Homo sapiens: one gene and its partners. The protein of the gene in region 1 purifies or fractionates together with the protein of each later gene. This does not show direct contact. Each region holds a gene or a part of one and is shown in the gene's direction. Other genes may lie near its edges. The genes, in order: GPC5, GPR179 and HSPG2.

Evidence for each region.
Region 2: the proteins of GPC5 (region 1) and GPR179 purify together in Homo sapiens (co-immunoprecipitation; one study listed by IntAct). This does not show direct contact.
Region 3: the proteins of GPC5 (region 1) and HSPG2 purify together in Homo sapiens (affinity purification with mass spectrometry; one large-scale study listed by BioGRID and IntAct). This does not show direct contact.

Annotation. Positions count from the first base shown.
Region 1 is NC_000013.11:92,864,486-92,867,758, forward strand, and holds the end of GPC5 (glypican-5 precursor), read left to right. Parts: intron 1-1,796; coding exon 1,797-1,954; 3' UTR 1,955-2,752; downstream 2,753-3,273. UniProt on the Homo sapiens protein: Cell surface proteoglycan that bears heparan sulfate.
Region 2 is NC_000017.11:38,323,937-38,326,978, reverse strand, and holds the end of GPR179 (probable G-protein coupled receptor 179 precursor), read left to right. Parts: coding exon 1-514; 3' UTR 515-2,408; downstream 2,409-3,042. UniProt on the Homo sapiens protein: Orphan receptor involved in vision. Required for signal transduction through retinal depolarizing bipolar cells.
Region 3 is NC_000001.11:21,850,311-21,853,966, reverse strand, and holds part of HSPG2 (basement membrane-specific heparan sulfate proteoglycan core protein isoform b precursor), read left to right. Parts: intron 1-896; coding exon 897-1,048; intron 1,049-1,134; coding exon 1,135-1,267; intron 1,268-1,733; coding exon 1,734-1,879; intron 1,880-2,040; coding exon 2,041-2,176; intron 2,177-2,269; coding exon 2,270-2,421; intron 2,422-3,468; coding exon 3,469-3,604; intron 3,605-3,656. UniProt on the Homo sapiens protein: Integral component of basement membranes. Component of the glomerular basement membrane (GBM), responsible for the fixed negative electrostatic membrane charge, and which provides a barrier which is both size- and charge-selective.

The DNA of each region.
Region 1 (3,273 bases):
CCATCCAAACACAAATTCACAATGCTTAAAAATGAAAAGTAAATCCTGTAATGCTCAAATTTATGTAGTTATCTTAGAAAAAAAAAATATTTTTAATTGCCTGGAGTCCTCATAGCTTCTTGTTAAGCTTAACAAGAGGTATAAAGCCATGACTAAAATATTCACACTCCACTCTAGTCCCTATTTAAAAAAAATAAAAAAGGGAATCACTAGTTTATTCATCTTGCCTAATGACACAGAAGGGCAAAACAAGCACCCAAACAATGAATAATAATGTAAGAGCTCAGACTGTAAAATCAATATGTCAGATCAGCAGAGCTTTGCTTCGTTTTAGTGCTCTCATGTCTGAATGCAGCACAGCTTATCTTCTGAATTATATATATATATATTGGCCTAATTACATAAATATTGACTTTTCCTTATATGAAGTTTATTCTTTCAATCTCTCTGTAATTACCATGTCAATATTTGTGGCTGTAGTAACAATGAATTTAAATCTGTTAATTGTGACTGATAGTGGCATGCTATGAGATAATTCAGTCACTTAGTCTCAGAACACTGATGGCACTAGATAATAAGTGATGAATCAGTAATTCCCTAGGTATATCGTACTAAGGTAAACATCTTTAAAAAGCAATTCTTTCAACCCAGTTAATTAAGGGGATAGTTTTTTCCTCAACTTGTCAGGTTTCATAACGTACGGAAGTAATAACCAGAATGCGACTGGATCTTGGTGTATGACTTTGCCCGCTTTTTTTTAAATGAAACACTTTATCCCTAACTTCATTCTCCAGTCCACCCATTAACAACTTCTTTGATCTGTTGATAGATATCTACACCTCCATCCTCACAGCTGTATGTGTGTATGGAAGATATAATTTAACATTTGTTGCTATTATTCTTTGCTATTTGCTATTTCCATAAAGGTCCTAATTCCTGATCTCACTTACATGTGGAATCTAAAATAGCTGAAGTCATAAAAGGGGAAAGTAAAAGGGTGGCTGCCAGGGGATGGATGTGGGGAAGGGAGGGGAGATGGTGGTTGGAGGGTACAAAGTTTAGTTAGACAGGAGGAAGAAATGTTTTAGACCATTGCGCAGCATGGTAACTATCATTCATAATGTACTGTATATTTCCAAATTGCCAAGAAGGTACATTTCAAATGTTCCCTCCACAAGAAAAATGCTAAGGATGTGAGGTGATGGATATGCTAGCCAGCTTGACTTTATCATTCCTCCTGGTATACTTGTCAAAATATCACATTGTACCCCATCAATATCTATAAAATTTGTCAAGTAAAAATGAAAATAAATTTGAAAAAGATCTTAGGCCTACTTTATTCTAATGTAAAATATGATCTGTAGAAATTCTACTTTTAAAAAATATTTTATTCAATTATATCCCCTCAACTGGTTTTATTTTCATGGGAAAAGTTTTCAGTTACTGAAGGTGATAAATCTCTGAAACAAGAACTAATCCCATACCTAGGATATATTAATTAATTAAATGTCTTCACTTACTTACCAGTGGCAGAGAAATGTTCCAAAAATTTTAAAAAGCTAAAAATCTTTTCACTTTGCTCTTATAATATTTGAGAATTTTCACACAAGAGCTTGAACTCTCCAATCTAAGTAGGACAGAAATACCTGTGTCATATTAATTATGTTAGAGTTAGGTGAACATAGAGAATGGTCCCCAAAAACAATGCTGTCCACACTTTGAGTTTAAGAGTTGTTCTAGACGTATTATGGTGAAGTGGTCATGCATCACCTGTGCTTTCTTATTTGCCTCTACAGGGATGCCAGATGATATGAACTTCAGTGATGTAAAGCAAATCCATCAAACAGACACTGGCAGTACTTTAGACACAACAGGAGCAGGATGTGCAGTGGCGACTGAATCTATGACATTCACTCTGATAAGTGTGGTGATGTTACTTCCCGGGATTTGGTAACTGAACTCTTCTGTCCTGACATACCTTACTGAAGTCTCGATTTCTTCTCTCTCTGCATATGCCTGGAATAAGAGATCCTTTTTCAATGTAACAATTATATTTATGAAAAGATATGTTACACTAACTTCTCAGAAGCCAAGCTGAAATATTCATAAAGTCCCTAAAACTCAACGTTTAAATGACACACTTTAAAAATATGTCTTTTTTCAATCTAACTGAAAACCTTCTTAACTTCTAATATATTAAATCTGAAGATGTGAAGGGCACAGAAGTGACTTTGAATAAGAAGAATTTAGTGTATCTGTAATTTTATTATCAATTCCAAGCCCCTTCCTTTCTAAATTAAAAATGTTTTCATTTGAAAGTGTATTTGCCAGACAATGAAAACAGTATGCAGTATTTCTTAAAGTATTGAAATTAGAATATCATGAAATAAATCAAAACATACAATGGCAAGTAGTATGCATGCATATTCAAGAGACTCTTCCATTTTTGCAAGCTGTAGAAGGAAATGTCTGAATGTCTATAAGTTATGGGGTAGATTCTTGAGAAGCATTTCATATAATTTCACTGAAGAACCTTGATAATTTTGACCCACTGTAACTTAGCCACTGATGAACCTTAAAGCTGAGTATTTTATTAACACCTGATTTGTATTCCATTATATTCAAAATGCATCTTTGGTATTGTGCCTCTGCTCCCATCTCTCTCTTTGCCTCATAGATTTAGCTATGTTGGGAAGCACATGCTTGCTCTAGGAATATCTCCAATAAAGCTGTTAACTATTTGGTGGAAAAATTTGAAGAATATTTGTCATTTTCTTCTGGCAAAAATGCTATTTTCACCCATTTTCAAAATATTATGTACTACTTTTTAAAGCCTGATGTTGTACAATTGGCTACCTTTGCATTTCTAAGGTTCCTATGAATATCTGCAGACATGTACAGAAAAGATGATATGCAACACTTTAGCTCTTTCCTATTTGCTCATTAATGGAGCTGCAAACCAACAGTCCCTAATTTCTCAGTTGGGATAAGTTGCCTCAATAGACACTAATAGGATATGTATATGGCTATACTTGAGGAAAAGAGAAGTTAGTTTTTATTAATAAGTATCACATCCAGTCTACAGAGAGAAAATATAATTAATACAAAGTCACAGAATAGAAAAGGGAATTGCTGACCTCAAATAAAAAAAAACAAAAAAAAATTTGAAATGACTTCTGACAAAGACGTAAACAAGACACAGCCAAATGCAAACATTAATAAGGTAAAATCCGTTTCTGCTAGTCAGGAAACAATATATGATCAAACCTTGTT
Region 2 (3,042 bases), on another chromosome or scaffold:
AGGTGCCCTGGACCCAGAACTCAAAGTCAGCCCCAAGGAAGCAGGCAGCATGGGAAGCAGGATGGCAGAGCTGTGCCAATGGGAAATCACAGATCCAGAAGGAAATAAAATAAAGGGTACCATGGCAGACATCTGTCCTGGGGAGGAAACTGGAGTCCCATCTGAGGAATCTGGCCTCCTGGCTTTAACAGCAACTCGGAGAGAATTTTTCCCCACAGCTCCTGAAAAACCACTATGCCTTTTAGTCCATGGGCCTCTGGATCACTTCTTTCCAGAAAGCAAAATCCCCTGCCCCAAGGTAAGCAGGCCAGCCAGTACTTTCACTCTAGAAGGTGTCAGAGAACTACAAGGACCTTCAGGGCTTGAGCCAAGGACCAGCTTAGCCCCAGAGCCAAGTCTCCAGGAAGCTGAGTCTCAGTCTTCGTCCTTAACTGAAGACTCAGGCCAAGTGGCTTTTGAAGCTCAGTATGAAGAATTCACCCCTCCCACTGTCTATCCTTGGGATTGGGAGTAACAGCCTTATTAGGTGAGGTCAAACACAGAGCTAGCTTTCAGGAGCCAAGGCCCTTTCCAAGTCCAGGTGTTCCCAAAGAGCTGAATCAAAGACAGCTTGGCCACTTCCCCTCCTTGAGAAGACCAGAAGTCAACCCATCCCAAAGACAAACTGCATGAAAAGGGTACAGCTTAGACCCCAATGGGAAGGCCCACCCTCTCTTTACTTCTAACTTTTCTTCCTGTTTGAGGAAACAAAGACTGGACACTCTACTTCTAAGGACGCCTCCCATCCACCTACAGTACTCACAACACAAACCACCCGAGTCTGGACACTCACCCACAAAGCCACTGTTAGGGATGAAAAAAGTCAGTTGTGCCCAGCCTACCTTCTCTCACAGGGGGACCCAATTCTCTGAAGTCTACGATGGAGCATTTTTTGAGAAGAAACTAAACCATACAAAGTGTTGGCAACGTAGGGATGGTGGACCACAGAAGGCTATAAAGGCCACCATAGAAAGCTGAAGAGCCATTTAATTGAAGCGGAAGATAAATTGGGGGAAAAGCTAAAATGACTCAAAATAGGGGCCTGAAAATGCTTTAAGGACCTTGTCATTTTGACTTTGAATCTCCTGTTTCTGCTTTATTGCTTCTCATACCTGCCCTGCTTGACTGCTGAAGCAGAAACAATCAGGCACGCTGACACCCTTATCAGCATCTGGCATCCAAAGCAACATCAGAGAGAGAGAACACAGAAGAAAAGCAATTGCCCCAGGTCCTCCCCACAGTCAAGGGAGCTCTTCCTTCCAGACATCCTTGTGTGCCTCTTGCTAGTTTTTTAGGGGGTCTCCCCCTCTTCCTGCCCTAGCTCTCACCAGTCTCCAGAGCTCGTCTCACTGGCTCATTTCCTTCCCCCTAGCTTTTCAGCGCTGCCATCAACAGGACCTCTCTCTTTTGTCAAGGCAACTGGAGTCAAGGGGAATCTCTGGTTCTGATGCAAGACCCATCCACCCTCCCCCACCCCTCCCCGCCCAAGAATCACTTGCTCAGTAACAAGAGGCCACATCAATCTCCTTCCAGAGGAGCTCAAGAAAGGCAGTCCTGTACACAGCCAGCACTCTACTTCTTCTGCCCTCTAAAAGAGGAGTGCTACAGGGCAAGTTAGAAGCCTGAGAGCTGGGAAAAGGGCACTGTGTGAAGACAAAGCCTTCTTTCTTAGGGAGCTCTCTCTTTCTTGGCTCCCTTCTCTCGTCAGTTCAGGCTACACTTGCTTAAGCAGTACTAGATTACAAATTGCTGGGATTAGATGATAATACCAGAGGGAAAGGAAGAAGGAGAAAAACATACAAAGAAGTCCCAAGATTGGCAAAGGGAGGTGGGAGAGGGGGGAAGGGGCAGCTAGAGAAGGCAGAGCTGCACAGGGGCACTAAAGATGGCAGTAAGTCACGCCCTCTAACAGTACAACAGTACAGACATTGATGTCATTCATGGGGAGAAAAAGACAAACAGGGAGACCAAATACCCAAAGGGAAAAAGAGCCATTAACATCTAGTCTGCATGTAAATATGCTGGGCGGTTATGGGACTTCACAGAGAAAGTAAAAAAGTACTCCATTTCCAAAAGGGAACAGAGGAATGGAGTAACCTACTCTCCTTTGGGGACCAGATGTCCTCATTCTCTTACCTAGGGCCCTTATTCTGGGCTTTTGGAGCAGTAATTGAAGTGTGTTGTTGTTCTGGGCTCTGGCTAGTTAGCCTTACGGCTTCTGAGCTAAAGTGGATTTTGCTGTGCACCCCAAAACAATCCCATTGGGTCTGGTCTAGCTGGAAACAGCAAAGTTGCCGCCAAACACACTCTTGTGAAATAAACCATGGGGTGGGGGGGGCGGGGCGGAAATAAAGAATGCTTTTTCTTGACATTGCAGTTGGCTCTAGCTTATTCATGATTATCTTTTTTTAACATTTTTAAACAGTAACAGAAGATAGATAAGGAAAGAACAATGCCTGCTCCAAAGCTCAAGGTGCACTGCAGTCTTGGGACTTTGGGTTATCTGGCTAATGCTCTGCTAGTGCCCAGGTCAGTGCTGACACTGCAGATGGTCTCTGCCTGGTCCTTCTAGCCAGCCCCTCACATCTGGAGGCCATTTGCTCAGCTGGATTTAATCCCAAGGGGAAATGGAAATTGCACTCATCCTCTGGCTCTCTGGTGGCAGCTACTGCTTAGCTCCTATTTAGGATTATCTAGAGAACCCTGAGATATCCAGGGGAGTGGGATGAAACAGCTTATTTGAAGCACTATTTTTACATATTCAAAGGAATCAATGTATCATTTACCCACTAAGTGTGCTTTTTTTTTTTTTTTCATTTCTTTGCTTCCTTACCCTGCAAGGATTATTTCCCCTTCCTCCATACTCCCTGGCAGTGGGTCCTGCTCAAAAGCACGTCCCTTCTCATTTTGCCTTAATCCAGGGCTCAGGCAAATAGGATGTGACCAAACCTCACTTGGGCAGTAATTAAAGTGATGTACACTTTAAGCCAAAAAGGTTGGGAC
Region 3 (3,656 bases), on another chromosome or scaffold:
CAGCAGAATGTCCAGGTTGAATACTAAGCTGGGAGTCGGCTGACCTGGTTCAAATCCCAGATCTGCCCCTTAGCAACCTTGAACTAGCTTTTAACTTTTGGGGCCTCAGATTCATCTATGAAATGGAGCAGTACTGCCCACCTGCTTGGTCATGGTGTGGTTTTTTTATTATTTTATTTTATTTTATTTTATTTTATTTTATTTTATTTTATTTTTTTGAGAGAGAGTCTCGCTCTGTCACCCAGGCTGGAGTGCAGTGGCGCGTGATCTCGGCTCACTGCAAGCTCCGCCTTCCGGGTTCACACCATTCTCCTGCCTCAGCCTTCTGAGTAGCTAGGACTACAGGCACACCCGCCACCAGGCCGGCTAATTTTTTGTATTTTTTTTAGTAGAGACGGGGTTTCACCGTGTTAGCCAGGATGGTCTCGATCTCCTGACCTCGTGATCCGACCGTCTCAGCCTCCCAAAGTGCTGGGATTATAGGCATGAGCCACCGCGCCTGGCCAGTCATGGTGTGGTTTAAATGAGACAGTGTCTATGGAAAGTACTTGTGAGCACACGGAAGACGTCCTGTAGAAGGGAGGTGTCTCACTGTCATCCGCATCCTTGGGCGCAGCCTGGGTAGTAAAGCTTGCTGGTTCCCTATGGGCCAGAGGAGCTCATCATCAAGAAGTCATGGGTGGGTCAATGGGCCTCCAGCTTGTGGTTAGAGGCTGGGGAGGGAAGAAGCCATATTCGGCTGGCCATGTGGAGGCAGAAGGGTGTGGCCCTAGTCCCAGAAAGGCCACCTGTCGGCCGTCCCCACTAGGGCCTGGTCACAGCCCAGAGCCTTCTGCCCCAGGGCTACAGGTTACAGCCCAAGAGTTCAGGCCTCTGAGCAGCCGCTCTGTGTCCAGTGCCCGGCAGCACCCGGCCCATCCGCATCGAGCCCTCCTCCTCACACGTGGCGGAAGGGCAGACCCTGGATCTGAACTGCGTGGTGCCCGGGCAGGCCCACGCCCAGGTCACGTGGCACAAGCGTGGGGGCAGCCTCCCTGCCCGGCACCAGGTATGGCAGCCCCCCGGGACCACCTTGCTGGAGGGGCTGGATGGGACTGTTCCAGCCCCCTCCCAACCCACCCCATTTGCACACAGACCCACGGCTCGCTGCTGCGGCTGCACCAGGTGACCCCGGCCGACTCAGGCGAGTATGTGTGCCATGTGGTGGGCACCTCCGGCCCCCTAGAGGCCTCAGTCCTGGTCACCATCGAAGCCTCTGTCATCCCTGGTGAGTGACTCCCAGTGACATGGAAAGCTGGAGGAGGCAGAGAGGCCTCCGGGGTGGTGAGATCCAAGGGACCCCTCTTGCTGACAGGGCAGAAGGCCCACACCGGAGCTGGCTGCAGGGCCCTGCCCAGGCCGACTCCACCTGTCAGAGTAACCACCGCCTTCCCGTCACACTTTGCTTTGGCCACATGACTCCTCAGGCGTCCCCTCCCACCTCCTCTTCCTCTCTCCAACTCATCTCTGCCCTCATCTCTCTCACTTCCTCACTCCCCTCTGCAAGGCGTGGCCCATGCCCTGGTCCTCCCATCAGGGTTGCTGAGCTGAGGGCATCAAGTCCAGGCCCCCAGATGCCTGAAAAGCTGGATCTGGCCTTGAAACCCTGGGCTGAGCTAGCTGCAGGGTGGGCAACCCCTGCCCTCTCATCTCAGGAGCATCTACAACTCTCACTCCCATCCCCACTGCTGCAGGACCCATCCCACCTGTCAGGATCGAGTCTTCATCCTCCACAGTGGCCGAGGGCCAGACCCTGGATCTGAGCTGCGTGGTGGCAGGGCAGGCCCACGCCCAGGTCACATGGTACAAGCGTGGGGGCAGCCTCCCTGCCCGGCACCAGGTACAGGGCACCAAGAATGTGGGACGGGGCCATGGACAGTGGGTTGCAGGATCCTGGCCCCTAGGCTGAGGGGCTGGCACTTCCTAGATCGGGGGGACAGCGGTGGGGCATTTGCTGGCCTCCGGGAAGCCCCCCTCACACCTCTGCCCACGGCTGCCCAGGTTCGTGGCTCCCGCCTGTACATCTTCCAGGCCTCACCTGCCGATGCGGGACAGTACGTCTGCCGGGCCAGCAACGGCATGGAGGCCTCCATCACGGTCACAGTAACTGGGACCCAGGGGGCCAACTTAGCCTACCGTGAGTGGGGCCACCAGGCTGGGCTGGGATGCAGAGAACAGGCTGGAGTGGCTTCAGAGAACAGGAGTGACCGGTGACCATCTTATCCCTCAGCTGCCGGCAGCACCCAGCCCATCCGCATCGAGCCCTCCTCCTCGCAAGTGGCGGAAGGGCAGACCCTGGATCTGAACTGCGTGGTGCCCGGGCAGTCCCATGCCCAGGTCACGTGGCACAAGCGTGGGGGCAGCCTCCCTGTCCGGCACCAGGTATGGGACTGGAGGACAGACAGGCCAAGAAGAGGAAGCGGGTCCCTGGGTGGCGGAGGTTATTGGGGGAGGGCTAGAGGCTCCCCTGAGATCAGGAAGCCCTGGACCCCATTGCACAGATGTATAGTGCAGTGGTTAGAAACCAGAATCTAGGACTGACTAACCTGGGTGTGAATTCTGGCTCCACCACTTAGCTTGTGACCTCGGACAAGTTACTTAACCTCTCTGTGCTATAGTTTCAGGGCCTATAAAATGGTAACAATGGTACGTACCAGCCGGGCACGGTGGCTTACGCCTGTAATCCCAGCACTTTGGGAGGCCGAGGTGGGCGAATCGCCTGAGGTCGGGAGTTCGAGACCAGCCTGGCCAGTATGGTGAAACCCCATCTCTATTAAAAATATAAAAATTAGCCGGGCATAGTGGCAGGCGCCTGTAATCCCAGCTACTCGGGAAGCTGAGGCAGGAGAATCGCTTGAACCCAGGAGGCGGAGGCTGCAGTGAGCCAAGATCACGCCATTGCACTCCAGCCTGGGCAACAGAGCGAGACTCAGTCTCAAAAAAAAAAAAAAAAGTACCTCACAGAATTATCTTAAAGATTAAAATATATGCAAAATCCTCAGAGCTTAGGCTCACAGAAAGTACTCTAAGCTGTTAATATTTTACTATAATGCCATTAGCTATTGTTGTTACCATATTTTGTAGAATTTAGGATACCACTGATTGCGAGATCCGCTATGATTTTATGTACCTCTAAGAAAAAGCTTCTATTTGTAAGGTTATTCATTGTAGATGCATCTTGATTTTGGAGACATCGAAATGTGTGTCTAGAATTGATGGGATGTGGTGTGAGTGTGTACCCAGCTCACTGGGGCTCCTCTGGTCTACCACCCCGCTGCTGGACAAGAGTCCCCCTTCCCCATGTGAAGGACAGGGAAACTGATCCAGAGCTGATGGCCAGGCCTTGGGGGTCAGAGTGAGGCAGGGTTGCAGGTTATAGGAACAGGGGTCTCCTGAGGGCTCCCTCTGACTCACCCCCATTCTGGCCAGACCCACGGCTCCCTGCTGAGACTCTACCAAGCGTCCCCCGCCGACTCGGGCGAGTACGTGTGCCGAGTGTTGGGCAGCTCCGTGCCTCTAGAGGCCTCTGTCCTGGTCACCATTGAGCCTGCGGGCTCAGTGCCTGGTGAGTAGCTCTCAGGGAGGGCAGGGCTGGGGACCCAGGGTGGGAGGCCCCC